Linked DNA regions of Homo sapiens: region 2 is linked to region 1. Evidence: fine-mapped expression QTL. A gene starts in region 1. The other region holds a variant in brackets. All regions are shown on one strand. Distances are from middle to middle. Region 1 holds the start of DGCR8 (DGCR8 microprocessor complex subunit). Region 2 overlaps TANGO2 (transport and golgi organization 2 homolog).

What was found. PIP is the estimated chance that this variant, and not a neighbour inherited with it, causes the effect.
Region 2: its variant is fine-mapped to the expression of DGCR8 in whole blood (INTERVAL, PIP 0.96).

What each region holds. Positions count from the first base shown.
Region 1 is chr22:20,070,338-20,084,469 of GRCh38, forward strand. It overlaps DGCR8 (DGCR8 microprocessor complex subunit), which reads left to right and starts at 9,904. Exons shown (of 14, transcript NM_022720.7): 1 at 9,904-10,046. RefSeq lists a silencer at 9,783-10,402 and enhancers at 10,663-10,722, 12,827-13,445.
Region 2 is chr22:20,033,348-20,049,833 of GRCh38, forward strand. It overlaps TANGO2 (transport and golgi organization 2 homolog), which reads left to right. Exons shown (of 9, transcript NM_152906.7): 2 at 3,413-3,507; 3 at 10,008-10,096. The coding sequence starts at 3,452. Among named protein-coding and RNA genes, the nearest start is that of MIR185, 8.5 kb to the left of the region's middle. RefSeq lists an enhancer at 840-909 and a silencer at 5,199-5,360. The variant G/A (reference allele first, on the strand shown) is at 8,973.

The DNA of each region.
Region 1 (14,132 bases):
GACCTGGCTAGTTCCATGGTAAGGATCCTTCTCCGTCACCCAGTCAGTCCCAGGCTGTGTGGGAAACTGGCTGTGGTGGGCAGGTCTGAGGTCTCAAGTCTGACAGGGGCCACTGGAGCCTCCAACTCACCAATCAACCAAGTGTGAGAGGTTGCTTTGGTTGAATGGCCATGTGCTGGGGTCTGACTGGCCCAGCCACAGGGAGGCTGGCATCCCCTAGCTGAGTCCTGGACCCAGACCCTCCAGGGCATGGAGCCCATTGTGAGGTGTCTGGTGCTGAAGTGGTGGGGGAGGCCCGTGCAGGCCTACAGCTTTGTCATCTGCAACATTCCTCTCCCCACTTTCTTTAAACTTTTTCATTTAGAAATGATTTCAATGGCCAGGCGTGGTGGCTCATGCCTGTAATCCCAGCACTTTGGGAGGCTGAGGCGGGTGGATAACCTGAGGTCAGGAGTTCGCGACCAGCCTGACCAAAATGGAGAAACCTTGTCTCTACGAAAAATACAAAATTAGCTGGGCATGGTGGCACATGCATGTAATCCCAGCACTTTGGGAGGCTGAGGCAGGTAGATAACCTGAGGTCAGGAGTTCGCGACCAGCCTGACCAAAATGGAGAAACCTTGTCTCTACAAAAAATACAAAATTAGCTGAGCATGGTGGCACCTGCCTGTAATCCCAGCGACTTGGGAGGCCGAGGCAGGAGAATCACTTGAACCCGGGAGGCAGAGGTTGCAGTGAGCCGAGATCATGCCATTGTCCTCCAGCCTGGGTGACGAGAGTGAGACTCCGTCTCAAAAAAAAAAAAAAAAAAATGAAACCTCGTCTCTACAAAATATACAAAAATTAGCTGGGCATGGTGGCAGGTGCCTGTAATCCCAGCTACTTGGGAGGCTAAGGCAGGAGACTCGCTTGAACCCAGGAGGCAGAGGTTGCGGTGAGCCAAGATGGCACCACTGCACTCTAGCCTGGTGACACGGCAAGACTCCATCTCAAAAAAAAAAATTTTTTTTTCAATTTACTAAAGGATTTAAAAAGTAGAACAAAAAATTCTAGTGTCTTTCACCCAGTTACCCCAAATGTGAATGCCGCACCCAATCACAGAAAAATGATTACAACCAGGAAATTAACACTGATAATGTTAAAGAAAGAATTACTGAATGACATTTGCTAAAGCACTGTAGGGAAGACTTTATTCAGGACCGTCTTGCTAGGTCTAGGGACCACAGGAATGAGATTCTGCAGTGGGGGAGAGAGATTAAGCTCAAGTCCGAATGGGCAAGTGGGAACTGATGATAGCTGAGGAGCAGGGCGGTGGGAGCTGGGTCAGCACATGGAAAATGACTAAGAAGAAACACCCCGGGTGAGGGAGATTCTGGCTACACCAATTAACAGGATTTTTGCTGAAGACAGGCCACAGTGACCGGACATCTTCACCTGGGGGACAGTGTAGGAACGGATTAGATAAGGAGGGTGATCAGATGTCGAGGGTCAGGGGATGCTTCTTGCTAAAGTGACTTTGCAGGGTTCTTGCTCTAAGTGAAATTTACAAGGAAGTGCACAGATGGGCCTAGAAGAAGGTTCAGAAGCCTGGTTTGGCCAAGCAAAGAATCTTTGTCGGTCCCTCCTCTTGTTCAAGGAAAGAAGAGGTTATCTTTCCTTGAATAGTACGAGTCCATTTCCTTGCTGGGCTGCCTTTTGTTCATTAAAGGCCAGCTGAATCATCTGCTGGGACCGGCAGTAGAGGAGATATCCTCCATGGTGTGAGCCATCAGGCGTTGCATGTTGAAGATAAAAGAAAAAGATATTAGTTGGAACCAACTATAAACTCAGTTTCTGAGTTCAGAGGGCAGCTACTCAAGATTTCCAGGTGCTGTGCTTGAAGCATCTTCAGATGGAGTAGGGGCTAACAGACTATCATGGACGGCAGTTTGCGTGTCATGAAGTCTGCCCACAAATTATCTGTTGTGGTGCCATCTTAAAGTTTCTTTCTTTTTTTTTTTAGACAGAGTCTTGCTGTTGTTGCCCAGGCTGGAGTGCAGTGGCGCAATCTCAGCTCACTGCAACCTCTGCCTCCCAGGTTCAAGCGATTCTCTTGCCTCAGCCTCCAGAGTAGCTGGGACTACAGGCACACACCACCATGCCCAGCTAATTTTTGTAATTTTTGTAGAGACGGAGTTTCACCATGTTGGCCAGGATGATCTCAATCTCTTGACCTCGTGACCTGCCCACGTTGGCCTCCCAAAGTGTTGGGATTACAGGCGTGAGCCACCGTGCCTGGCCTAAAGTTTCTATCAAGTTGTCCGGGTTCAGCTTAAAGGGCTTCAGGAAATGGGAAGTTTTAATTTTTAGCGGTTCCAGGCCAGAAGGGTGGGAAAAAAACTGGAAACATCAGTTTAGAGAAAATCAAATATTGGAGGAAACTAGAAGAATTCAGGATCCAATCCAGTTTGTAGGTAAATATCAAAACCTCAAAAACAATGAACAGGGCTAGAATCTGATAATGGGTGCACTATAGTTTTCTTCTGAAACTAATTTTTCTCTATATAGTCACCCCACTTCTATCAAAGATGTTGAAGTAAGACTAATTTGTTTGTAGCTAAGTTTAGGTTGATTAAACTTGGCCTAATTACTTACATAAGTGCCGCAACAATAGTGATTGAACACATAGGCTTTCTTTAAGTTTCCTTTGCTAGGACTTTTTTTTTTTTTTTTTTTTTTTTGTCACGGAGTCTCGCTCTGTCGCCCAGGCTGGAGTGCAGTGGCGTGATCTCCGCTCACTGCAAGCTCCGCCTCCCAGGTTCACTCCATTCCCCTGCCTCAGCCTCCCAAGTAGCTGGGACTACAGGCACCCGTCACTATGCCCGGCTAATTTTTTTTTGTATTTTTTTTAATAGAGATGGGGTTTCACCGTGTTAGCCAGGATGGTCTTGATCTCCTGACTTCGTGATCCGCCCGCCTCGGCCTCCCAAAGTGCTGGCATTACAGGCGTGAGCCACCGTGCCCAGCCTGCTAGGACTTTTAATAAGGCATCTCAGATTGGGCTTTTAAAAGCCTTGCCAGGCTAGGAAGCCAAGCCGAAGCTTCACCATCATACTTCATTTGCAATCATTATAGGTTTGGGTGAATTCCTCTCTTTTTGAGGTCCCCCAAAATATCCTGACATCCTTGGGCCTGTCAGGAAGTGACTTTCCTTACTCACCTACAAGGCAACCACATGACCCATGTATTCAAGGTTTAAAACCCATTTTTCCCCAAGGGCTTTATTGGTTCCATAAAGTCATCTTAGTTACTTAAAGTTGTCTGGCCATAGCTAAAAATATGGCATTCTAGTCAAAGCTTTGGTAATATAAACAGCATTTCCAATTGTGTCCTGTTACAAAGAGAACAGGTTCTTACTGAACTTATGTAAATAACCATATTGCCATTAAAATAAAAATACTCATGAATAGTTTCCGAATTATGGAAGGATAAGGTACAGAGAAAAAGTAATTGTTTCACTTTTGTTTACAAAGGCATACTTTACCAAACTGCTGTAAGCTATGGATAACTTAAAAGAGAAAAAAAAGTTTCCTTAAATCTGGAAAACAAAACATTAAAGAACCAGCAATGTTTCAAACAAAACATAAAAAAATTATCCTGGCTGGGTACAGTGGCTCACACCTGTAATGCTTAGGGAGGCTGAGATGGGAGGATCATTTGAGGCCAAGAGTTTGAAACCAGCCTGGTCAACATAGTGAGACCCTATCTCTACAATAAAATTAAATAAATAAATAATTGTAATTGGTTTATTCATTGCCATGTAATTTATTCTTGTTCTGTTTGATCTTGATCAGCAGTTTCACGAACCCCTCAGTGTCTTCATTCAAGTTCTGGAAATTCTGGCCAGGTGTGGTGGCTCACGCCTGTAATCCCAGCACTTTGGGAGGCCAAGGCAGGCAGATCAGTTGAGGCCAGGAATTTGAGACCAGCCTGGCCAATATGGTGAAACCCTGTCTCTACTAAAAATATAAAAATTAACAGGGCGTGGTGGTGGGCGCCTGTAATCCCAGTTACTTGGGTGGCTGAGGCAGGAGAATCGCTGGAACCCGGCAGGCAGAGGTTGCAGGGAGCCAAGATTGCACCACTGCATGCTGGCCTGGGTGACAGAGTAAGACTATGTCTCAAAAAAAAAAAAAAAAAAAGAGTTCTGGAAATTTTTTTTTTTTTTTTTTGAGACGGAGTGTCAGTCACCCAGGCTGGAGTGCAATGGCACGATCTTGGCTTACTGCAAGCTTCGCCTCCTGAGTTCAAGTAATTCTCCTGTCTCAGCCTCCAGAGTAGCTGGGACTAAAGGCACACACCACCACACCCAGCTAATTTTTGTGTTTTTAGTAGAGATGGGGTTTCACCATATTGGCCAGGATGGTCTCAATCTCTTGACCTCGTGATCCGCCCGCCTCGGCCTCCCAAAGTGCTGGGATTATAGGTGTGAGCCACTGCGCCTGGCCCCAGCCACATTTCTTAAGTAATCAAAAACCTAATAAAAGACAATATGAAGAACAAGGAACTATCTTGATATAACACAAAAATCTTTGTTTCCAAGGTCAATTATTTAAAAGGTAAACAGAGGCCAGGCGAGGTGGCTCACGCCTGTAATGCCAGCACTTTGGGAGGCCGAGGCGGGCGGATTACGAGGTCAGGAGATCGAGACCATCCTGGCTAACACAGTGAAATCCCGTCTCTACTAAAAAAATACAAAAAATTAGCCGGGCATGGTGGTGGGCGCCTGTAGTCCCAGCTACTCGGGAGGCTGAGGCAGGAGAATGGCGTGAACCCAGGAGGCGGAGCTTGCAGTGAGCCGAGATCGTGCCATTGCACTCCATCCTGGGCGACAGAGTGAGACTCCGTCTCAAAAATAAAAAGTAAAATAATAATAATAATAATAAAAGGTAAACAGAAATCTTCATAATCTCAAATACTGTAAGAAAACTTTGTCATTTCAACAGAGAAGATCAAGTTAAAGTTCTGCATCATAGCACTACTAATAAAGCTAATTTTAACAAAACCTTATAAATGAATCCATCCAATCTCATGCAAGATAATATTTCTTTTCCAAGATTTCTTTTCTATAGATCTTTTACAACTTAAAAAAAATATCTGGCCGGGCACGGTGGCTCATGCCTGTAATCCCAGCACTTTGGGAGGCCGAGGCGGGTGGATCATGAGGTGAGGAGATCGAGACCAGCCTGGCTAACACGGTGAAACCCTGTCTCTACTAAAAATATAAAAAATTAGCCAGGTATGGTGGCGGGCAGCTGTAGTTCCAGCTACTCGGGAGGCTGAGGCAGGAGCATGGCGTGAACCCGGGAGGCAGAGGTTTCAGTGAGTCGAGATCTTGCCACTGCACTCCAGCCTGGGTGACACAGAGAGATGCCATCTCAAAAAAAAAAAATCTATCAGTACTTTTTTTCCCCTACATTTTTTTTCTTTCTCATTCTGGAACAACCAGTTGCTATATATATTAGCACAGAGTCAGTTATTCCTTTAAGGGATTTTATAAATTAATTTGGTGCTACTATCTGGAGGTAGAAAAATATCATGTATATATAACATACAAACATACATATGTAGTTGCTCTGCAACTGAAGTTGGCAGAGGCCAGACCCAGTGGCTCACGCCTGTAATCCCAGCACTTTGGGAGGCCAAGGCAGGCAGATCACTTAAGGCCAGGAGTTTGAGACCAGTCTTGCCAACATGGTGAAACCTGGTCTCTACAAAAATACAAAAAAATCAGCTGGGCGTAGTGGCGTGCGCTTATAGTCCCAGCTACCTTGGAGACTGAGGCAGGAGAATAGCTTGAACCCAGGAGGTGGAGGCTGCAGTGAGCCGAGACTGCGCCACTGCACTCCAGCCTGGGTGACCCAGTGAGTCTCTGTCTTAAATAAATACATAAATAAATAAACAAACAAATAAATAAAGTTGGCAGAGTATATAGTCTGAAGGGGTTTGAGGAAAGGGGATTCAGGTGACTGAGAAGTTCCGATGGGAGAAGTAGGATCCAATAGAGAGAACAGAGAGGCCTCACAGTGGGAAGAAAAGACTGCCAGCCCAGGAGTCAGGGAGTGAATCCCCATTCAGAATGAAGAGCCACAAGGAAGACCTTCCAACCCAGGAAGTATTATACCTTTCAAAAGAAGGCTGGGACCTTAAAAATCAAAATCTGTCCTTACCAGCTAAAATAAAAGTTTTTCTACAGTCATGGCTCAGGAGTTTGACTCACCAGTAGATCCCCAATCAGCCAGTCAGAAGACAAAGGCTGCAAAGTTGCACATTGAGAGTCCTGGGTCAGAGGCCTGTGGCACCACAACCATTAAAGAAAAAAATTATTCAGCCCTTGTCAAAGCACGGTCGGGAAGGCCTTATTCAGGAGCATTGCCACTGGCATATGGACCACAGGCAATGGGGTTTTGCTGCAGGGGAGAGATTGGGCTGAACTCTGAATACAGCATGGACAAGTGTGAACTGATAGCCAAGGAGCAGGGCGGGGGTCAGTGGATGAAAAATTACTAAGAAGAAACATAAGTGATAAGGGGGATACTGGCTAAGCTGACCTAAGAGGATTCTTGCTGAAGACAGGCTGGGGTGATCAGACATCACCTAGAGGATGGTGGAGGGATGAGGAATTTCATCAGTATTGAGGGCGATCAGATATCAAAAGCAGGGTGGTTCTTGCTAAACTGGAATTCTCAGACGGGCCTAGAAGATTTAGGAGCCTGACTAAAGTTTGGCCAAGCAAATAATCTTTTGTCAATACAACAACACGATACTTTTTACTGTTTGTTTTTTTTTTTTTTTTTTTTTTTTTTTTTTTTGAGACAGAGTCTCCTGCTGTCTCCCAGGCTGGAGTGCAGTGGCGCGATCTCAGCTCACTGCAACCTTTGCATCCCGGGTTCAAGCAATTCTCCTGCCTCAGCCTCCCAAGTAGCTGCAACTACAGGTGCGTGCCACCATGCCCGGCTAATGTTTTTGTATTTTTAGTAGAGACGGGGTTTCACCCTGTTAGCCAGGATGGTCTCGATCTCCTGACCTCGTGATCTGCCTGCCTCAGCCTCCCAAAGTGCTGGGATTACAGGCGTGAGCCACCGCGCCAGGCCAATACAATAGTATTAACTAATCTACAGACCTTGTTTGAATTATATCAATTGTCCCATTAATGTCCCTTTTCTGAGCCAGGATCCCATCTATCGTCTGGATTCCACACTGCATTTTGTTATCTCTTTTAATTGAAGATGGCTCCTCAGTCCATCTTTGACTTGAATGATCTCGATACTTGAAAAGCACTGGCTGGTAATTTTGCAGAATGCCCCTAATTTGGGGTTTGTCTGCTCTTCATTCAGATTCTGCCTTTTGGGCAAAAATACCCACAAGTGAACTTGTGTTCTTCTCAGGAGGTCCACAGTATGTCCTCTTACTGGAACTAACTTTTTTCATTTCTATTGAGGCAGAATTTATATACAATGCAATACACATGTTTAAATGGTACAATTTGCTAAGTTTGCTGGTGACCTTGATGGCTTGGTTAAAGGTGGTGTCGCCCAAGTTTTCTTCCACTCTAAAACTACTATTTTCCCTAGGCAATTAGTATCCTGGGGGAGAAACTTTGCAACACTGAAAACAAAACAAAACCTGTTTGTCATGTTTTTGCCCACTATTTTTTTTTTTTTTTGAGATGGAGTCTCACTCTGTCACCCAGGCTGGAGTGCAGTGGCGTGATCCCGGCTCACCACAACCTCTGCCTCCCAGGTTCAAGTGATTCTCCTGCCTTGGCCTCCCGAGTAGCTGGGACTACAGGCACGTGCCACCATGCCCAGCTAATTTTTTTTGTAGTTTTAGTAGAGACGAGGTTTCACCATCTTGGCCAGGATGGTCTTGATCTCTTGACCTCGTGACCCACCCGCCTCGGCCTCCCAAAGTGCTGGGATTACAGGCGTAAGCCACTGTGCCTGGCCTAATTTTTTTGTAGGGGGTTGGGGGCCGGGGACCGAGTCTCGTTCTGTTGCCCATGCTGGAGTGCAGTGGCTGGATCTTGGCTCACTGCAACTCCTGCCTCCCAGGTTCAAGCAATTCTCCAGCTTCAGCCTCCGTAGCTGGGACAACAGGCACCTGCCACCAAGCCCTGCTATTTTTTTTTGTATTTATAGTAGAGACAGGGTTTCACCATGTTGGTCAGGCTGGTCTCGAACTCCTAACCTCAAGTGATCCGCCCGCCTCGGCCTCCCAAAGTGCTGGGATTACACGCATGAGCCACTGTGCCTGGCCTTGCTCACTATTTTTTCTGGAGACGGTCTCGTTCTGTCACCCAGGTTGGAGTGCAGTGGCCCGATCTCAGATCATTGCAACCTCCACCTCCCGGGTTCAAGCGATTCTCCTGCCTCAGCCTCCCGAGTAGCTGGGATTACAGGTGCCTGCTACCACGCCTGGCTACTTTTTGTATTTTCAGTAGAGATAAGGTTTCGCCACGTTGCCCAAGCTGGTGTGGAACTCTTGAGCTCAGGTGATCCGCCTGCTTCGGCCTCCCAAAGTACTGGGGTTACAGGCGTGAGCCACAGGGCCCGGCCCACTATTTTTATCACTCAAGATTTTCGTCTACAGCAGCTATTATTGGGGTGGCTACCCAGTGGAAAATTTTTCTATTTCCACTATTCCTTCCACATTTATTGACAGGAAAGCTAGTCTAAGGAAGAGCTGTACCCTCACTTACTCAGACCCTCGTTTTCCTTTTTTTTTTTTTTTTTTTTGAGACGGAGTCTCACTCTGCCGCCCAGGCTAGAGTGAAAGTGGTGCTATCTCGGATCACTGCAGCCTGGAACTCCTGGACTCAGGTGATCCTTCCACCTCAGCCTCCCGAGTAGCTCGGACCACAGGCGCCCGCCACCACGCGGCTAATTAAAAATAATTTTGGGCCCGGCGCGGTGGCTCATGCCTGTAATCCCAGCACTTTGGGAGGCCGAGGCGGGCAGATCAATTGAGGCCAGGAGTTTGATACCAGCCTGGCCAACATGGTGAAACCCCGTCTCTACCAAAAATATAAAAATTAGCCGGGCGTGGTGGTGGGCGCCTGTAATCCCAGTTACTCGGGTGGGTGAGCCAGGAGAATCGCTTGAATCCGGGAGGCAAAGGTTGCAGTGAGCTGAGATCGCGCCACTGCACCCCAGCCTGGGAGACAAAGCGAGACACCGCCTCAAAAAAAAAAAAAAAAAGAAAGAAAATTTGTAGATACTGGGCTCTCACTATGTTAGCCAGGCTGGTCTCGAACTCCTGGGCTCAAGTAATCCTCCTGACTCGACCTCCCAAAACTCTGGGATTACAGGCGCAAGCCACCGTGCCCGGCCGAACCACCGTGCCCGGCCGAACCCTCCCTGTTTTGGAAATCCTGTATTAGCAAAGGGGACAGCGCCAGACAGTTGAGCACACGCGTTCTTTATAAATGATGATGTCTGATACAGTGATGCTTTTAACAGGGTTGTGTAACGCCTGTGTGTGCACGGTCTCTTCTGCAGTGTCCACCGAAGGTGGCCCGTCTGCGTGTCCGCTCCCGGCGTACTCCGCGCTCCCTGTTCCCGGCATTCCCCGCGCTCCCCGAGCTTCCCGCGCTCCCCTGCTCCCGGCATTCCCGGTGCTTCCCGTTCCCGGCGCTCCTCGCGGCCGCCGCCCTCAGTCCAGCGAGCCCCGCCTGGGCAGCGACTGTTAGCGCGACCGCGGCCTGGGCGCCTGGTCCCTCCCGCGCGGCCGCGCTATTGGGCCGCGCGCGGCGGACACACGCGCTACGCGCCGCCGATTGGCGGCCTCCGCAGCGCGCTCTGCGGCTCCCCCAATGCGGGGCGGCCGCGCGCGGGGATTGGCCGCACGCCGCGAAGGCCCGCCCTCCGCTCGCCCGGCGCGGCAGGCGGGTGCCGGCGACCGGAGAGCCTGGACAGGCTTTCCAGATGGCTGCGGCGGTCGGTCGGTGAGGCTTTCCCGGCTGTGGTTTGGCTGCGGGCGGCTTGGGCAGCCCGCGGGCGCCTCAGGTAGGTGCGGGGCGCGAGGGGCGCCCGCGGGCGGTTGGGCGGGCGCCGCGGCCTGCGCGAGGGCGCGCCCTTCCCTCCCGCCTCCCTCCGGGACCGAGGCCGCGGGCGGGGCGGGGGCGCGGAGCCCGGCCTTTGTGAGGCAACATGGCCGCGGGCGGTGGAGAGCGCGGGGTGGGGACGCCTCCGGGGCTGGGGGGCGGGCCCCGGGCCCAGGCGTTGCCGACTCTCGTCGCTGTCCGCCCGGGTAAAGAGGCTCCTCTCCCGGAGGGCCCGAAGCCTAGCATCGCCTTCAGGCGGGAAAGGTGTGGACAGGGCCAGTGCTCGCCTGGGACCCTGCCGGCTTTAACACAGTTTGGGAAATCCAAGAAGTCGCCTAAGTCTTTTTGTCCACAGAATGCTCACGGGTTGAGTGTCACGTAGATAATTGGGATACGGTTTTATTGTAACAATGAGCATGGCGGAAATAAATGGAAGGTGGCAACCTGTTGACAGTGATGCCTGTCTGGTGTCAACCGATGGACTTGGGTTTCTTGTGGCAGGAGTCTGATTTGCCTTTTTGCATGCTTGCATGTACCTTGTTCCTGCACGGCAGTCCTGTCTTTGGCTGTCGACTGTTCGAGGCCAACCACCAGGCGAGGATCCACTGTTTCCTGGCCAGACTAGACTCCCAGCTGTGGGAGTGGCCCAAACCCTGCTGCAGGCCTTCACTCACAAAAGGGAGTGAATGGCCAGCCCGGGGTACCCAGTGTTGCCTCTAAGTGCGGGATATGAGGCCTGTTGGAGGATGACAAAAGGAACGGATGAGGTCATACTGCCGCTGGGTTGGGCGGGAGGCTGCAGCGGGAGAGACTTGACCAAAAGGCAGCCTCCATGGCGCTGGCACTGGTGCTGGCCCGTCACAGCCAGTGCCTCTGTTAGCCAACACAGCAAGTGGGCTAGGAGGAAGGGTGCTGTCCAAGTGTACGGGTTTTCTCCCCGTGCCAAGGGTCCAGGGGAGCTTGCCGTGAGCCCGTTCCTGTCCGATAGTCCTGTTGGCAAGGCAGGGTTTGCATGCGGTGTTTGGTCAGCTGGAGCAGTGGGGAGGCCTACGGGCAGAGAGCTCCCCTTTGAGCCCTTTGCGGCCAGGCGCTGTGTGGAGCACTTCCCAGGGGTTGTTTTGTAGTCTCACCGTGACCTTGGGGTAGGAAATGTGCTTCTGGCTGGCTTGCCCAGTCTTAGACTCTCTTGTTGTAGCCCTCTCCTTTGTGATGTCACCCAGCCTCCTGACTTTAATGCCAGCTTTCCTTGACATCTTCACAGCTCCAGCCCTGGCCTCTCTTCTGATTTCCAGCCTGGTGTTTCTGGCCACCTCTTCCATATCTCCATGTGTTACTTTGGCGCCAAGTAGCCATATCCAAACCAAACTCAAATCTTCACCCATGCCAAAACATTCCTTGGCCTATCTAAAGTCCCTTTGATTCCTCTCTTTCTTACACCTTCATGCAGTCCTAAGGAGGCCCCGTCAGCTCACCTATTTCTAAGCACAGACCATTTCTCACCACCTTCAAGTTAACATCCTGGCCCAGCCTACCTGGTGAGCCTCTAATTCTCTTTACTGTCACCTTAGGTCCTCACTCCCCATCCACCATCTATAGTTTTTCTGGACACAGAGTGATTCTTCTTTCTTTCTTTTTTTTTTTTTTTGTTTTTTTGAGACAGAATCTCGCTCTGTCGCCCAGACTGGAGTGCAGTGGCGTGATCTCAGCTCACTGCAACTTCTGCCTCCCGGGTTCAAGCGATTCTCCTGCCTCAGCCTCCCAAGTAGCTGGGACTGCAGGCGTCCACCACCACCACGCCCGGCTGATTTTTGTATTTTTAGTAGAGACGGGGTTTCACCATGTTGGCCAGGCTGGTCTCGAACTCCTGGCCTCAAATGATCTGCCTGCCTCAGCCTTCCAGAGCGCTGGGATTACAGGCGTGAGCCACTGTGCCTGGCCACAGAGTGATTCTTTTTATTTTTTTGAGACAGAGTCTCGCTTTGTTGCTCAGGCTGGAGTGCAGTGGTGCGATCTCCCGCTCACTGTAAGCTTCGCCTCCTGGGTTCAAGCCATTCTCCTGCCTCAGCCTCCCGAGTAGCTGGGACTATAGGCGCCCACCACCACACTCGGCTAATTTTTTGTATTTTTAATAGAGACGGGGTTTCAATGTGTTAGCCAGGGTGGTGTCGATCTCCTGACCTTGTGGTCCGCCTGCCTCAGCCTCCCAAAGTGCTGGGATTACAGTCGTGCACCACCGCGCCCGGCCCAGAGTGGTTCTTTTAAACCATAAGATGGTATAAAACAGAGGCGGTGTAGATGCAAGCCAGCTTGCCTGCTTGTAAAGCAGCTCCATCACTTCCTGGCTGTATGACCTTGAGCATGTGGGTGAACCTTTCTTCCATAATGCTATGTGAGACCTGGGTGAGTTAAAATGCTTAAAGTGCTTAGAACAGGGCCTGGCTGAGGTTTGGTTGCCACTGCTATCCTGGAATCAGCTGATGCCACTGTGTGGGCCTTCCTATCCGGTGGCCCATCTCTCTCACTAAGAGCCAAAGTCCTGGCAGCAGCCTGGGAGGACCAGCCCTGATCCATCTGCCCTCATGGACTTGGCCCACTGTCACGTCCCCTCAGCACACTGCCCCAGCTGGCCACACCACATTCCTGACCCCAGCCCTCTGCTTTTCCTCTCAGTGTCACCTGGAACATCCCCTCCTCCCAGCCCTGTAACCCACCTGGCTCACTCCTGCCTTCACGTGGATGCAGGCCATGAGGCCTTCTTGGATCCCCCTTCCTAAAACTGCCTCCCCTTCTTCAGGCGCTTTCCTTGTTTTGTTTTTGCTTGAATACTTCTTGGCATGTGACAGGGTGCATGCTTTTCTTAGTTGTTAGCGGTCCATCTCCCCCACTAAAATGTGAGCTCTGTAGGGCAGGGTTTTGTCCACCTTGTGTCTGTAGCATCTAGGATGGTGTGTGTGTGTGTGATGAATGGAGAAAGCTTATAGAGGGGAGGAAGGAACTTGCCCAGGACTGCCCACCACTGAGGTCTGGGGCTGGGCAGGTTTCCTGCTTTCCTAAGGAGCTCACTCACTTGTAAGGCACCAGGCTTTCCTGCTGTGCATTTCTTCAGTGCCGCCGCTTGGCCCCATTAGCACCTTTGCTTGGAACGTCTACTCTAGCTGCTTCTTCGCCTTCTGTGGTAGCAGGCTTCCCCATTCCGTCCCACTGTTGGTCTCTAATCCCCTGCTCCTTGTGGCTTCTTCATGTAGCTTTTTGTGTCCCAGAATCATGGATTGACTCACCAGGGTCTCTATGGGACTGCCAGGTTCTGAGGTGTGTGGCCCTGGTCTTCCTTGTAATCTGTGGCACTGGGCGCATTGACCCCTCGGTCTGTTTTCTCTAATGGTCTTTCTTGGTTGCCAGGAGACTGACCTCACCCCACTTAGTGTTCCTCATGCCTGCCTGGTTGCTGCCCACAGCCTCTTGAGCGTCTTCAGCACTTTATAGTCAGTTGTTAGCTCTGTGCTGTGTTTCCTGGATCCTCAGCACCTTTGATGGACACATCTTTGGGAACATACGGTGTGAAATTCCCATTAGATTCAGAAATGTTAGGACATCTTAGAATCCAGGAAATGGGGTGACAGTGCAGTGGTCATTGACCTGCCAGTGTGTCCAGGCCCTGTGACCTTGTCTCTTGTCCATATAGTGCGTTCCTCGGAGTAGATGGCCAGTGGATAGTTGTTAAATGTATTGATTAAACCTAAACTAGTCTCTGGTTTTCATGTTGTGTCCCCTTCGAAGTACATCCACCATGCCTTGTCCCTTGTTAAATGTGTGATGTCTGCATCTCCTGTTCTTTCCGGGAATCTTGGGAGGATGTTAGGTCATGCAGTGCGGTTTGCATGTGTGCATCTTTACTGGTATGCACGCATGTGCATGCATGCGTGTTCCTGTGCACGTTGTGGGAGTGTGCATGTGCGTGTGTCTGCATGTGTTCCTTCTGCTCTGATGCAGGGTTTTCTGGCTGCCCCCTCAGACCCATCTTCCCTGCTTCATGTTGTCCCTTTCTTCA
Region 2 (16,486 bases), 36 kb before region 1:
GGGCTGGTCTGCTGCCCCTGCACCCTGGCCAGCTAGGATGGTGGGGTCCTGCAGCTGAACTGGGGGTGCCTTTCTGCCTGTCTGTCCTACGTGTATCAGTGGCCAGAACTGCCCTCATCCATGGCCTTGCCAGCAGCTGGGCGTGCAGCCCAGGGAGGGCTGAGGTCGGCTGAAGTTGATTGAGACCAACGGCCTTCTCTAACACCCCAGAGGAGCATGTCCCTGGTGAGCAGGCCTTGGGCAGCCCTGGGCTCCAGGCCAGTGGGATTCCAGTAGAGACCAGCTGGCAGGGCTTCTCCAGTGACTGCAGCCAGGGGTTCTCATGTGCAGGAAAGACCAGCTCCTCCAGAGTAAAGGGACTTGTGTCTTCTGGCCACATGGTGAGTGCTGGGCCCACCCCATCAGTGGCACCTTGGGTGCACTCCCAAAGCCCAGCGTGTTCCCCATCTTCCTGCACTGCATTCGGGATGGTTCTGCATCATCAGCTGCACCTGATTGCTCTTAAACCCACAGCTGAGCTTTAATGTGCAGTCACTGAAGCTTTCATTTCTAAAATAGCTTCCTAAGAGTTCTTTTGGCCAGGCATGGTGGCTCATGCCTGTAATCCTAACACTTTGGGAGGCCGAGGTGGGTGGATCACCTGAGGTCAGGAGTTGGAGACCAGCCTGACCAACATGGAGAAACCCCGTCTCCACTAAAAATACAAAATTAGCTGGGCGTGGTGGCGCATGCCTGTAATCCCAGCTACTCGGGAGGCTGAGGCAGGAGAATTGCTTGAACTCGGGGGGCGGAGGTTGCGGTGAGCCGAGATTATGCCAGCCAGCCTGGGCAACAGGAGCAAAAACAAAACAACAACAACAAAAAAAAACCGAGTTCCTTTTGCTGCTTTGTAAACCCAGTTTGCTCTTCATCACTTCCTTTGCCCTGCAGATGTTTCTGAGCTGTCTGTTTTCTTTCTGCCATCAGAGCATGGTTGGTTGATGATGCATGTACGGTTATCTTTCTGCTGGTTCTTGCTCATGGTGCTTCTTTCATTATGTGGTTCTTTCTGACTATGTACTGCTTCTGGTCTTTGAAAAATGATTTTGAGACTTCTTTGAAGTATAGGATGAAGGTATCTTTCTCCAGAGAGAACTTCAGGCACAGGGGCACTACGAGTGCTGGAACCCCTTAAAACTGTGCTTGGCTTGTGGGTCCTTGTACCCCCAGTGTGGACCTGGACGGCTGGCTGTGCCACAGCTTCTCAGAAACTTCCCTTCACTTATGTGCAATGTCCCCATAACCCCTGGGGGTGGCTGCGGCTGTAGTTCATCTCTCCCTAAGCATCGCTCTTTGGAGTCCCAGCCTAACTTAGAGGAGAGTCTTCTGTTAGGTTCTTCATCCTGTGGGGGTGACTGGACCTTGTCTTCTGTCTCCTTCGCCCCCGAGGCCACCAGAGTATGAGCCCCAGTGTGTTCAGTGGGCAAACGCTCTCAGGCAGGATTGGCCACTGTGTTCTGCTGTCCTCTGTGGGCCACGCTCTCCGAACTGTTGGCCAAATGCTGCATGAGCTCATCAGCTCCTGGCAATTTTTAAGATGTTTTCATATTTCATCCAGCATCTTGAGTTGTTTTTACCAAAAGGATTGCCCCTAGTAGCCTGCCCACCCTCGGATGATGGCCCCCTGTGGGCGCTTCCAGGGCACCCGGCAAGGGGACCCAACCCACTTCCAGCCCCACAGTCTGCTTCCCACAGGGCCCCCTTGCAACAACACACCCTTTAGCTTCCCATCCTATGCAGAGTGGTGGCCAGCAGACCATCTCAAATGGCTGCCCATCCCCCTGACCCAGTGCGTCTGCACGTGGCGCTTATTGCTATCCCAATACTTCAACTGCACAGCCACCAGCTCCTCACTGGAGCAGATGGTCCCCAATGGCCATCCCTAATGCCCGTGCCTATGGAGGCACATACACTGAGCCCTCTTCACCTCCGTCCCCACTCATTAGACTTTTCTCAGAGGAATCTTTTTGGGTCTCTTCAGTATTTGAACAGCTTCTTGGCTGTCCCATGTCCCAGCTGTGAGCACTGGCTCTGCCCTGGAGCCGTGTCACTAAATCATTGCACATGTGCACATTTCAGGGAACTTGGGTGTCACCCTTGGGTGGCCTCGGAATCTAATCTCCGTTCTGCACTCGTTTGCATTGTGGAAAACTGCCTGCTCTGGGCCCCAGAGGTCCCTGGGTGGGGACGAGGTGTATGCTAAGTGTGCAGTCACCCAGCGTGTCCCCGGCACGTGTCCATGCCAGCTGCTGTGGGTGTGTGGGGCCTTCGGGTCCTGTGGGATGGCGAGTGTGTGTGCTGAGCAGGACCTGTAGGGCCTGCATCCCAGGTGAGTGGGCCATGCTGTTGGAGGCGGAGGCAGGGCTGCCCCCACTGGTGGCGTGTGGGGTGGGTTTGGTGCTGTTGCAGGGGAGGAGATGTGCATGTGGGGGACAGTCTTGAAGGAAGAATGTATACAGTGGTCTATTTCCAAGACAAAGTGTCTTAAATTGGCTTAGCTCAGCAAACTACAGAAGAAACAGGATATACTAGGCCACCCTGCTTGGATAGCTGATGTGTGCTTGTCGGCCTCCACTTTCCCCGCACTTAGTTGCCTTCACCCGAACCAAAGAAGTTCAGTCTAAGCTGAAAGTTTACTAGCCTGCAAAATAGCTCATTTTGTCTGTTCTTATCAGCCTGCCTGCTACTTAGGTCGTAAGTTAAATACTTAAAAAGTCCCTGAGCTAACTAGGACTGCAATGCATTGTGGGCTGCAACAAAATACAGCAAGACAAGCCCCCAAAAAAACACCTGAAGCCCCTACCCAACAATTAATAGGCGACGTCCGGGAAAATTGTGACCCCACAGTACTCGGCCTATGAGGAACTGGGGGAGGGACCTGCGTACTAGGGGATAAATTGCTTGTCGAAACTGTGCTGGGTGTGCCTGTCTGACACCTGATCTTGCAAGACTGTCATTAAAAGTCTCACTTTCGCTGTTCTCTGGGTCTGAGTTCATTCTTTAGATTTGGATGGGTAAGTTTGTTTCTCACAGTGTGGCTCCTGCCCTCACTTCTGCTGCCCCCCGGGGACCCCCTCGGCACCCCAGCTCGGTGTGTCCAGGCCTTAAGACTACCATGGTGCTGATGGGATGCTTCTGTTCAGGGCTGGTGTTGCAGGTGGTGGAGAGACAGTCTGGCCAGTGCCAATGAGTGCATGGGTTTGGGAGTTGTTTGTGTGGCACCGGCCAAGAGTGTGGTGTCCAGTTCCCCCACACCCAGCAAGTAGTACAGACACCACAGAGGTGGTTCTCTCTGTTCTGGCCTGTTGCAGGTTCGGAGGGCAGCCCTGAGTGTCTGCCATCCGCTCAACTCAGTGTTTTCCTTTTCCCGCAGACCTCGCGACCTGTGTCAGCAGAGCCGCCCTGCACCACCATGTGCATCATCTTCTTTAAGTTTGATCCTCGCCCTGTTTCCAAAAACGCGTACAGGTAACCCCCTCGCTCTGCATCTGCTGCGCCCTGCAGGGTCCTGGGTGCCCAGCCAGTTCTCATGCCACCCAAGCTGCTGTGTGCAGGAAGGTGTGTGGGCCAGGACGGGGCTGCACAGGCCTGGCACTGCCCTCCAGGACAGGGTCACTCAGTGTGGGATGCTGTCAGAATGCCTCTCGGGGCGGGGACTCCAGTCAATGTACAAAGACGTGAAGACTCAGCCACAGAAGGCAGCCACAGGTAGGACAGAGGAGTGACATGGGTCCAGGTGGGCTGCAGTTCTATGGGCTTTGAGGAGGGTCGGGCGGCAGAACTGGGACAACGGCGTCAGTGAGTGAGAGCCAGCTTGGGCTGGCGGGTCACAGCTGCTGGTGAGAAGTCAAAGTGGCGGCCAGGCTAGGGGTCTGTGGGTGGGTCCTGAGCTGAGGAAAAAGAACCTGGGGAAGAGGGGACGCTGAGGACCAGCCAGAGGAGTCAGGAAATCGAGGCCAGAAGCCACCCCTGACCCTGGACTCAGGACGGCCACACCTCCATTCCCCAGGACACCCCAGCATTTATCCACACAGAGAACGAGGCAGAGATATAACCCACATCTAAAATGAAACGTGTAACCACTCTCTAATGCAACTGCTCGGGAAGTTTTCATCATTTTAAAATCTGTACCAGAAATGATTTGAACCATTTCAAGAGGGTCTCAGATTTGAGTCACTGCAAAGTTGCATAGACACCATGCTGCTTGACTTCAAGGCTGAGTGAAGTCATTTCAGGCCAAGGAATCAGGAAGGAAGGGTGTCTGGTGTTTTCCCTTTTTGCAGTTGGGTGAGTGGCAGGTCCCAGCAGCAGACAGCATGCTGCAGGGAAGGTGGAAGAAATGTTAGGAAAGAACTATTGACTGCTACAGGGACTGGAGTAGTGTTGGGCTGGCTAGTGAGTGAACAGAACTCTAAAGAATGTAGGGGCTGGCCGAGCACGGTGGCTCACGCCTGTAATCCCAGCACTTTGGGAGGCCAAGGTGGGCGGATCACAAGGTCAGGAGATCCAGACCATCCTGGATAACACATCTCTACTAAAAACACACAAAAAAATTAGCTGGGCATGGGGGTGGGCGCCTGTAGTCCCAGCCACTTGGGAGGCTGAGACAAGAGAATGGCGTGAACCTGGGAGGCAGAGCTTGCAGTGAGCCGAGATTGCGCCACTGCACTCCAGCATGGGCAACAGAGCGAGACTGCATCTCAAAAAAAAGATGAAGGTAAAATAAGGTCATGTGGGTAGGCCCTAATCAATGTGATGGGTGACTCAGATACGCACAGGGGAAGCTGGTGTGTATACAGAGATAGAAGCAGTCGTCTGCATACCGAGAAGACCCTCAAAAGGAGCCAGCCCTGCTGACGCCTTGATCTTGGATCTCCAGCATCCAATGCTGCGAGACAATAGTGTCTGTTGTTGCAGCCGCCTGGTCTGTGGTGCTTAGTTACGGCAGCCCCAGGAAACTAGCACGCTGAGGAGAGCCAGCCAGCTCTGTATGCGTTTCAGGGCTGCCTCCTGCAGGCTGCTGAAGAGACTCAACCCACCCCGAGTGCTCCCATCTCTGGAAAGGAAGCTTGATGGCTGGCCTGCGGGTGCTGGTCAGTGCCACCCAGCCCCTTGGGTGGAGAGGAGGAGGGTTGACATGGGCCCCTCTTGCTTTCACTCAGAACCCGTGTGTTGCTGCCAGGACCTGTCCTGCGGGTCCTGCCATTCCAGTTGGCCTCGGGATTTCTCTGGACTATTTTCCGAAGCCCTAAGCCAAAGACGAAATGTGCCACCTCTGGGTGACTGAGCAAATGTGCGCTGTGTTTTCCTGACTTCATGGGAGGGTGTGAGACACTTCTGGTGGCTGCTTCTGCTCTGCCTGTGGGGTGTCCAGCCAGGGGAAGGGCACGCTGCAGGCTGGGAGCACAGACACTTCTATGGAGCCCCTGACAGCACCTCTGCAGCACTTTGGGAGGCCTCGTACAGGTACCCAGCTAGGCTGGGCTGGACTCCTCACCTGTGGACTGGAGTAAAAAGTAGGGTGCTTTAGGCCACTATGTTTTTTTTTTTTATTATTATTATTATTATTTTAGAGACAGGATCTTGCTCTGTTGCCCAGGCTGGAGTACAGTGGTATGATCATAGCTTACTGCAGCCTCAAACTCGCCGGCTCAAGCGATCCTCCCACTTCAGCATGCCTAAGTAACTGGGACTACAACACCATGCCCGGCTAATTTTTTTTTTTTTGGTAGAGACAAGTTCTCACTATGTTGTCCAGGGTGGTCTCGAACTCCTGGGCCCAAGTGATCCTCCTGCCTCAGCCTCCCAAAATGCTGGGATTACATGCGTGAGCCACCATGCCCGGCCTCGGCCACTGTATTTGGTAATTTGATACCCATCACGGAAAACCAAGACCCTGCAGCAAGATAACACAATCACTTCATGATGTCACCCTATCTCTTTCAAAACTGCCTGTTTACAGCCGGGTGCGGTGGCTCACGCCTGTAATCCCAGCACTTTGGGAGGCTGAGGTGGGTGGATCACTTGAGGTCAGGAGTTCGAGACCAGCCTGGCCAACATGGTGAAACCCCATCTCTACTAAAAATACAAAAATTAGCCTGGCATGGTGGCGCACACCTGTAATCCCAGCTATTAGGGAGGCTAAGGCAGGAGAATTGCTTGAGCCTGGGAGGCAGAGGTTACAGGGAACTGAGATAGCGCCACTGCACTCCAGCCTGGATGACAGAGTGAGACTCCATCTTAAAAAAAAGAAAAAACGAAAAAAAACCTGCCTGTTTACAGCCCCACGTGATGCCACTTGCTGGCTTCAGCCTAGAGTGGCTGCAGGACAAGCTGTTACTCCATGGGACAGCTTCCATGGGGTCACCACTGAGGGTTTGATCACTGGATCTCAGGCCAGAGTACCTCCTATCTGTCACCAAACTGTCCCCCAGACAGTGCACACACTCACCCCCCGGCAGAACACACTCACCCCCCGAGATGATGCACATACCCCCCGGACAGTACACGCACTCACCCTGCCTAGCAGCGTGGGTGTCAGGTGGTGATGGATAATTAGTGGTTTCAGTTATTGGAACAAAATAAAGCCGAGGTGACTTGCCATCCTCAGGGACCTCACCGTGGTGGGTGCATCCCTGTCTCTCTGGACGTGGGGCGCAGATAGGCTTCTACCCATGTGCAGCCCCACCAGTGATGACTGAGAGAGCTACTTCCTCCTCCCTTTGGGGCTTGATCTGGGTGCTCAGCATGCTGGCTTGTCCCTGAATTATGTATTCAATGAAATCCCTGGCAAACCACCAGCAATTCAGCTAAACATGACTGCTGGAACAAAAATAACCTGGCAATTAATGTTCCTGAGTTATTAGGCAAACATATATAATTGCTCCTTGTTTAAAAACAGACAGCTGAACATCTTAGGACAAAAGTCCATGCTCAGTCAGCTTTTCTTCCTACTTTTCTCCCCTTTATTTTCCCTTTGTAAGAGCATTATGTCAGAATCAGCACCCGAAGCCAACAGCCCCAGCCTGGTTTGGGGCTGGACTGGGATGAGGTGTCCCTGGCTCCCCCGACCCCTGTTCACCTGCAGGGCTGTGGGACGTGGAAGCAGAGGAGGAAGGTATTTAAGAGAGAATGCTGAGCAGAACCACATGGAGCTTGACCCCACCCATAGGGTGGAGGAGCTGTCATCCCAGACCCTGGCACATCCCCACCATAGCACTCAGGGACTGCGGTGTTCCCCCTTCTCCTGCCCGCTGGCCAGGACACAACCAATGGGCACCTACAGGACTGGCCCATCCAGGTCTGGGGCAAGTGCACTGCCTTCTACTAGCACTGTCCAGCCCAGGGAAGGTGGGCTCTCCTGCCATCCCTGCTGCAGAGGTTGGGGGGCACTTCTGCCCAGAAGGGACATGGAGACTTGGGCTGGGTCTGGGTTGAAACATGGCAGTTAGAGGTACAAAGGCTGAGGCTCATCAGGGACAGAGACCACCTCCCCCTACCCCAGGCAGCACATCCCTGAGACCTGGTGCAGCCCTGGGGCCAGCTGGGTGTCAGACCAGGCTGAATGGGGCACCCTGGAGGTGGTAAGGCTTCCATAGCAGACCCCAAGGGCTCTAGGGCATGGCACAGTCCCTGGCAATGACCAAAAGCATTTCCCCAGTTCTGCTGGCAAGAAGCTTCAGGGGCAGGCACTGAGTGGGGGGCACACATGTGCACACAGGTGTGAATGCCTCCAAGGGCATGAATGGTGGGTGCTAGCACCATGTACTTTTTTGTTTGAAATGGAGTTTCGTTCTGTCGCCCAGGCTAGAGTGCAGTGGCACGATCTCAGCTCCCTGCAACCTCCGCCTCCCGGGTTCAAGCAATTCTCTGCCTCAACCTCTCGAGCAGCTGGGATTACAGGCGCCCGCCACCACACCCGGCTAATTTTTTTTTTTTTTTTTTGAGACGGAGTCTTGCTCTGTCACTCAGGCTGGAGTACAGTAGCATGATCTCGGCTCACTGCAAACTCTGCCTCCCGGGTTCACACCATTGTCCTGCCTCAGCCTCCCGAGTAGCTGGGACTACAGGCGCCCGCCACCACACCTGGCTAATTTTTTGTATTTTTAGTAGAGACGGGGTTTTACCGTGTTAGCCAGGATGGTCTCGATCTCTTGACCTCGTGATCCTCCCACCTTGGCCTCTCAAAGTGCTGGGATTACAGGCGTGAGCCACCGGGCCCGGCCTAATTTTTGTATTTTTAATAGAGATGGGGTTTCACCATCTTGGCCAGGCTGGTCTTGAACTCCTGACCTCATGATCCACCCACCTCGGCCTCGCAAAATGCTGGGATTACAGGCATGAGCCACCGTACCCAGCTGTGAGCACCACTTTCACTCCCAATTTTATGAATGTCTGTTATTTCACATTTAATCAGGAGCAAATGTTGTTTTATGAAATTGATGTGCAATGATCAATATGGAAATTATTTTTAAACACTTGTCGGGCTCTCACCACTGCAACTTGGTTTCAGACTCAGATTGTGATGGCAGGACAGCTGAGCTCTGCTCCTTGGAGCTGCCTCTCCGGCACAAGTGCTCAGGGGGTCTTCAGCCATCACTTTTTTTTTTTTTTTAGAGACAGGGCTTCTCTGTTCCCCAGGTTGGAGTGCAATGGTGCAGTCACAGTTCACTGCAGCCTCAAACTCCTGGGCTCAAATGATCCTGCTGCCTCAGCCTCCCCAGTAGTTGGGAATACAGGCATGCACCACCACACCTGACTAATTTTTGTATTTTTTTTTTGTAGATATGGGGTCTTACTTTCTTGCCCAAGCTGGTCTCAAAACTCCTAGCCTCAAGTGATCCTCCCACTTTGGCCTCCCAAACTGCTGGGATTACAGGTGTCATCCACTGTGCCTGGCCCAGCCATCGCTTCTTAGACCCTCAGGTCTAATG[G/A]ACATTGCAGGAACTGACCCCTTCCACTCAGTCACTGCTGTGTCCTTATTTGTTTTCTTCTAATGTCCAAGCTGGGACTTGAAAGTCAGTTTTCTTTCCTCAAGACCAGGGCTCTTAAAGTTTAGATGTCTCTCCTAATTCCAAAAGAAATATTTGTTTGATTAGGCTGGATGTGGTGGCTCACACCTGTAATCCTCCGCCTCGGAGGCCGAGGCGGGTAGATCATTTGAGGTCAGGAGTTCAAGACCAGCTTGGCCAACATGGTGAAACCCCATCTCTACTAAAAATACAAAAAATTAGCTGGGTGTGGTGGCGGGTGCCTGTAATCCCAGCTACTCAGGAGGCTGAGGCGGGAGAATAGCTTGAACCCGGGAGGCGGGAGTTGCAGTGAGCCGATGTCACGCCACTGCACTCTAGCCTGGGTGACACAGAGAGACTCCATCTCAAAAAATAAAAATAAATAAAAATGGAAATATTTGTTTGATTCATAATGCAAAAAAACTAGTAAAACAGTGAAGTTCCCATCCACTCCCAACCAACCCGAGAAATTAACTCCAAAACACACAGAATGGAGCAGCCCTCAGAGGCCCACATGCTGTGCCATTCAATCTGTATCCTTGAGCTCACGCTTCCAAGAGCCCACGGGTTTGTTGTGGGTGTTCCCAGGGCTGGGGACAGATGGACAGAAGGAGGAACAGCCCCCCACCCTCCAGCCTGGGCTCCCGGCATGGAGCCCAGGCTCCATGGTGCCCCTAAGGGCCTGGCAGACCCGTCTCCCGCCATTGAATGGTGTGGATGTGTGTCCCTGCCTAGCATCCTCCTGTTTCCCGTGCGGTCCCAGCTGCAGGCTCCCGAGAGCTCACCTGGAGCCACGGTGCTCCTTCCTCCAGTGTGGGTGCAGCAGGACTGCCGGCTTCCTGCCCTCTCTGAGACTGGCCCTTGTTGCCACTGAGGCCAGTTTTGTGTGTGAAAAGAGAAAAAGACTTGGCTCGCTCGTTTCCATCTGAAGCCATCAGTGATGCTTTCCTCTTGCAGGCTCATCTTGGCAGCCAACAGGGATGAATTCTACAGCCGACCCTCCAAGTTAGCTGACTTCTGGGGGAACAACAACGAGATCCTCAGTGGTGAGTCTTCCTGCGTGCTCAGCGGTGGCTGCGCCTTGTTGCTTCCCTAGCCCCTGCGTGGCCCGAGTGACCCTAACTGAGTGGTGCTGCTTCCAAGTGTGATGGCGGGGTGTAGAGGTGGAACTGATGGGGCTCGTGGTCGGGGCCAGCCCCAGCACCGGGCATTGCCAGAGCTGCCCACCCAGCACTGTCTGCGTGGCTTCCTGTGCCATGCGTCTGCATGGGGGCCCCATCATGTGAAAGCATCAGTTGGTTTTATATGGATCCCTCCTTTTTGCTGAGGGCATGTGGGTGGATTTGTGTGATGTACAGATCCACACTCAGTCACTTTGTGAAGCAACCCAGTCATATGAGTGTGTGCATGCGTGTGTATGCGTGCGTGTGTGTGCCTGTGTTTGTGTTTCTGTTTGTATATGAGCACCCTTGCTTCAGGGATGGTGGGGCTGAGTTTGGGAAGCTGGTGGTGCTGAAGCCCCGTCACCTGCACCATGCCTGTGTTGCATTAGGTGTACTTATAGGGCAGAAGTAGGGGTGAGAACCAGGTCCTCCCCACCAAAGATACCAGCCTCATTGAAGTCCTGTTGGACAGGAACCAGTTCCTGCCCATGGGGTGGTGGGAGTCTACCTGGAAGGTGCGCATAGATGGCTGGTGAGGCCACGGGTTACTCTGCCTGCGTACCAGGCGCCAAGTGGGCCCGAGGCATCCTGGCATGCTCCAGGGTGCCCACTCAGGCCAGATGTGTGACCTCGTGGGCCCATGGAGGCTGTGTGTGCCCTGTGCTGCCTCCCAGGCCGGGAGGGCAGGTGTTGGGATTATAGGTGTGAACCCAACACTTAAGGAGGCTGAGGCAGGAGGATTACTTGAGCCCAGGAGTTCAAGACCAGTCTGGGCAACATGGTAAAACCCTGTCTCTACAAAAAAAAATACAAAAATTAGCCAGGCGTGGTGGCATGTGCCTGTGGCCCCAGCTACTCAGGAGGCTGAGGCTAGAGAATTGCCTGAGCCCGGAAAGCAGAGGTTTCAGTGAGCTGAGATTGTGCCACTGCACTCCAGCATGGGTGACAGAGCGAGACCCTGTCTCATTCAATCAGTCAATCAATCAATCAAATAAAAGCTCAGCTGTGGGGTTTTGTGAGGACTCCTGTGTAGGCCTGTGGCCTGGCAGTAGTGTGAGAATGCTGCTGAGGCTGGGTGGTCCCGGCACCGTGTGGGAGGAGGACGGGTGCATGGAGACTGAGGCAGGGTGGTCCTAGGCCTGCTGGTATAGGAGGATGCAGTGGGTGCAGGGCTGGTCAGGACGGGTGGGTGAAGGCACAAGACTGATGTCCTTGGAAGGTGGAAGGTTTTCATAGATGAAGATGTGGCGGCTCAGAGGGTTACCCTCTTCTGGTTCCTTGACTATTGTGCCCTCCTGGGCTCCATCCCACCCTGGCACCCAGGTCTGTCAGCTGCCTCTGAACTAGTGCCAACCCCAGCAGCTCCAGTCTTGTGGAATTGTTCACCCCTGTGGTGTTTTGATGGTGGCAGCTGGTGCATGGATGTACACGGGCTTCTGCCAAGTGTCGGGGTGACCATATCACTAAGGCCCACATCCTCTCACTCTCTGGCGTCACCGGATTGTATGCAAAAGTTTAGGACAGTGGTTCTCCAGGTGTGGTCCTTGGGCCTGTAGCACCAGCTTTACTTGAGAACTTGTTAGAAATGAAATCACCCTGGGCCGGTGGCTCACACCTGTAATCTCAGCACTTTGGGAGTCCAAGGCAGGAGGATCCCTTGAGGCCAGGAGCTTGAGACCGGCCTGGGCAACGTAGTGAGTCCCTGTCTTTACAAAAAAAAAAAAAAAAATTAGCCAGCTGTGGTGGCATATGCCTGTTGTCCCAGTTACTCAGGAGGCTGAGGTGGGAGGATCGCCTGAGCCTGGAAGGTAGAAGCTGCAGTGAACCGAGACTGAGCCACTGCAGTTAGCCTAGGCAACAGAGTGAGACCCTGTCTGAAAAAAAAGAAAAGAAATGCAAATCAAAATCATTAAATTCATAAAAATTTGGCCATCACTTCTTTTTTTTTTTTTTTTTTTTTGAGATGGAATTTTGCTCTTGTTGCCCAGGCTGGAGTGCAATGGTGCCATCTCAGCTCACCGCAACCTCCATCTCCCGGGTTCAAGCTGTTCTCCTGCTTCAGCCTTCCTAATAGCTGGGATTACAGGCATGCACCACCACACCAGGCTAATTTTGTATTTTTAGTAGAGATGGGGTTTCTCCATGTTGGTCAGGCTGGCCTTGAACTCCCGACCTCAGGTGATCCGCCCGCCTTGTCCTCCCAAAGTGCTGGGATTAGAAGCATGAGCCATTGCACCCAGCGGCCATTACTTTTTCAAGTAGTTTTTCTGTCTTCTCTCTCACTCTCTCCTTCTCTCCAGTTACACACATATATTAGTTCACTTGCCCTTGTCCCACACCTCTGCGATGCTCTCTGCGTACTTTTCTCGGTGCCCCTAGATCTTGAGGTTTTCCAGCCTGGTGTCTGGGAGCCAGCCCTACTCCCTGCCCTGTGTGAGCACTGGTGGTTCTTGCCCCAGTGTCATATAGTCTCCTCCCTGAGATGCTGATCAGACATTCTCTGTGTAGCTCCTTCCTCTCTGGACTTTTGTGCCACTGTCTTAGTTCGTTTGTGTTGCTCTAAAGGAAAAAGCTGAGTCTGGGTAATTTTTTTCTTTTTTTTTGAGATAGGGTCTCACTCTGTTGCCCAGGCTGGAGTGCAGTGGCACAATCCTGTCTCACTGCAGCCTCTAACTCCTGGCCTCAAGTGATCCTCCCACCTCAGCCTCCCTAGTAGCTGGGACTACAAGTGCACATCACCATGCCCAGCTAATTTTTAAAAATAATTTGTAGCGACAAAGCCTTGCTGTGTTGCACAAGCTGGTTTCAAAGTCCTGGCCTGAAGTGACCCTCCTTTCTTGGCCTCCGAAAGTGCTGGGATTACAGATAATAAGCCATGGTGCCCAGCCAAGGCTGGGTAATTTTTTTTTTTTTTTTTTTTTTGAGACAGAGTCTTGCTCTGTCGCTTAGGCTGGAGTGCAATGGTGCGACCTTGGCTCACTGCAACCTCCACCTCCCAGGTTCAAGTGATTCTCCTGCCTCAGCCTCCTGAGTAGCTGGGATTACAGGCACCTGCCACCACACCCTGCTAATTTTTGTATTTTTGTATTTTTTTATTATTATTCTTTAAGTTCTAGGGTACATGTGCAGAACGTGCAGGTTTGTTACATAGGTATACATACATGTGCCATGTTGGTTTGCTGCACCCATCAACTCATCATTTACATTGGGTATTTCTCCTAACGCTATCCTTCCCCCAGCCCAATTTTTGTATTTTTAGTAGAGATGGGGTTTCACCAGGTTGGCTGGGCTGGTCTCAAACTCCTGACCTCAAGTGATCCACAAGGCTGGGTAATTTATAAAGAAAAGAGGTTTATTTGGCTTAGAGTTCTACAGGGGACCTGAAGCACAGTGTCAGCATCTGCTTCTGATGCAGGCCTCAGGAAGCTTCTACTGATGGTGGAAGGGGAAGGGGAGGTGGTATGTGCAGATCACACACGGAGGGAGGAAGCCAGAGAGAGGGAGGAGGCGCCACGCTCTTTTAAACAACCAGTTCTCAAAGGAACTAATAGAGCTAGAACTCATCACTGTGAGGACAACACCAAGCCGTTCATGAAGGATCTGCCATTAGGTAGATCTGTCTCCCATTAGACCCCACCTCCAACACTGGGGATCAGTTTTTTGGTTTGTTTGTTTTTTTTTTTTTTTTTTGAGACAGAGTTTCACTCTTGTTGCCCAGGCTGGAGTGCAATGGCACGATCTCGGCTCACCACAAGCTCCGCCTCCAAGGTTCAAGCAATTCTCCTGCCTCAGCCTCCTGAGTAGCTGGGATTACAGGCGCCTGCCACCATGCCCAGCTAATTTTTTGTGTTTTTAGTAGAGACGGGGTTTCACCATGTTGGTCAGGCTGGTCTCGAACTCTTGACCTCAGGCAATCCACCCGCCTCAGCCTCCCAAAATGCTGAGATTAGAGGCGTGAGCCACCTCACCCAGCCCGGGGATCAGATTTTAACATGAGGTCTGGGGGACAAACATCCAAACTATGGCAGCCATGAACTCTGGTTGTCTTAGTTTCCCCAAACACTAAGCCCCTCTTCTCAGCTCAGGGAGTCTGCTGAATTCGGCCTGGTCCCCCCACTCCCTGGGCTGGGTCCTGGAGCCTCTCTAATCATGGGCTCACTTTGTTTCCTGTCTGTCATATCCTTTTTTGTAAAACCCATTTGATATGGTTTGGCTGTGTCTCCACCCAAATCTCATCTTGAATTATAGTTCCCCAAATCCCCACATGTCCTGGGAGAGACCCAGTGGGAGGTAATTGAATCATGGGGCATTACCCCCATGCTGCTATTCTCATGATAGTGAGTTCTCATGAGATCTGATAGTGTTTTGTTTTTTTTTTTTTGAGACTGAGTTTCGCTCTTGTTACCCAGGCTGGAGTGCAATGGTGCGATCTCGGCTCACTGCAACCTCCACCTCCCAGGTTCAAGCAATTCTCCTGCCTCAGCCTCCTGAGTAGCTGGAATTACAGCCGCTTGCCACCACGCCCAGCTAATTTTTGTATTTTTAGTAGAGATGGGGTTTCACCATGTTGGCCAGGCTGGTCTCGAACTCCTGACCTCAGGTGATCCGCCTGCCTCGGCCTTCCGAAGTGCTGACATTACAGGCATGAGCTGCCGCTCCCAGCCAAGATCTGATGGTTTTATAAGGGGCTTTTCCTGCTTTGCTTGGAACTTCTCCTTCCTGCCACCATGTGAAGAAGGACATGTTTGCTTCCCCTTCTGCCATGATTGTAAGTTTCCTGAGGCCTCCCCAGCCATGCTGAACTATGAGTCACATATCTTTCCTTTATAAATTACCCAGTCTCGGGTATGTCCTTGTAGCAGCATGAGAATGGACTAATAAATACACCATTGTTTCTTGAGTTTTATTTATTTATTTATTTTTTGGTTGTTTTATGCAGGAGGGTAAATCTGGTCCTTGTTGCTTGGGCAATTTGGAAGTTTTGTTCTTGTTTTAATTATTGATTTGTAAGAGTTATTTACCCATTCTGGATATGAGTCCTTTGTGCCTACTCATTTCCTTAATGATAGCTTATGGTGAGCAGAATTTTTTTTTTTTCTTTTGAGTGGGTGGAGTCTTACTCTGTTGCCAGGCTGGAGTACAGTGGTGCGATCTCAGCTCACTGCAACCTCCGCCTCCCAGGTTCAAGTGATTCTTCTGCCTCAGCCTCCTGAGTAGCTGGGACTACAAGCATGCACCACCATGCCCAGCTAATTTTTGTATTTTTAGTAGAGATGGGGTTTCACCATGTTGGCCAGGATGGGCTCAATCTCTTGACCTCTTGATCTGCCTGCCTTGGCCTCCCAAAGTGGTAGGATTACAGGCGTGAGCCACTGCGCCCGGCCAGAATATTTCATTTTAACAAAGTACAGTTTATCTTATCTTTTATGAGTTGTTCTTTTTGTGCCTTATCCAAAAAGTCTTTGCCTACCCAGAGGAAAATATATAACAATATTTTCCTCCATTTGCTTCTAGAAGCCTAATTTTTGTTTTTATGTTTGGTCTATGATTTATCTCAAGGTTTTGTACATGGTGTGAGGTAGGGGTTGAGATTTACTGCCTCCAACCCCCAAATCTCTCTAGTTGTTCCAGCATCATTTATTAAATGGATTATCTTTTGCCTAGTTCATTACTATGGCAACTTGGTTGTACATCAGTTGAACATATATGTGTGGGTCTATTCCTGACTCTGTTGTATCCCATTGATCTATGTATCTGTCTTGATGCCAACACCATGCAGTCTATGAGTGCTGCTGCTTTTTAGTAAGTCTTGAAATCAGGCTGAGCACTGTGGCTCACACCTGTAATCCCAGCACTTTGGGAGACCGAGGTGGGCAGATCACCTGAGGTTGGGAGTTCAAGACCAGCCTGACCAACATGGAGAAACCCCGTCTCTACTAAAAATACAAAATTAGCTGGGTGTGGTGGTCCATGCCTGTAATCCCAGCTACTCGGGAGGCTGAGGCAGGAGAATCACTTGAACCCGGGAGGCGGAGGTTGCGGTGAGCTGAGATCACGCCATTGCACTCCAGCCTGGGTAACAAGAGCGAAACTCTGTCTCAAAAAAAAAAAAAAAAAGAAAAAAGAAATCAGGCAATGTGGGTCTGCCTTCTTTTTCGGGACTATTTTGGCCATCCCAGTTCCTTTGCATATGCATAGATATTTCAGCCAGTCTGTTAATTGCTATAAAACGAAAAGCCCCCTGGGATTTTGACTGGGCAGGTTTTGAATCTA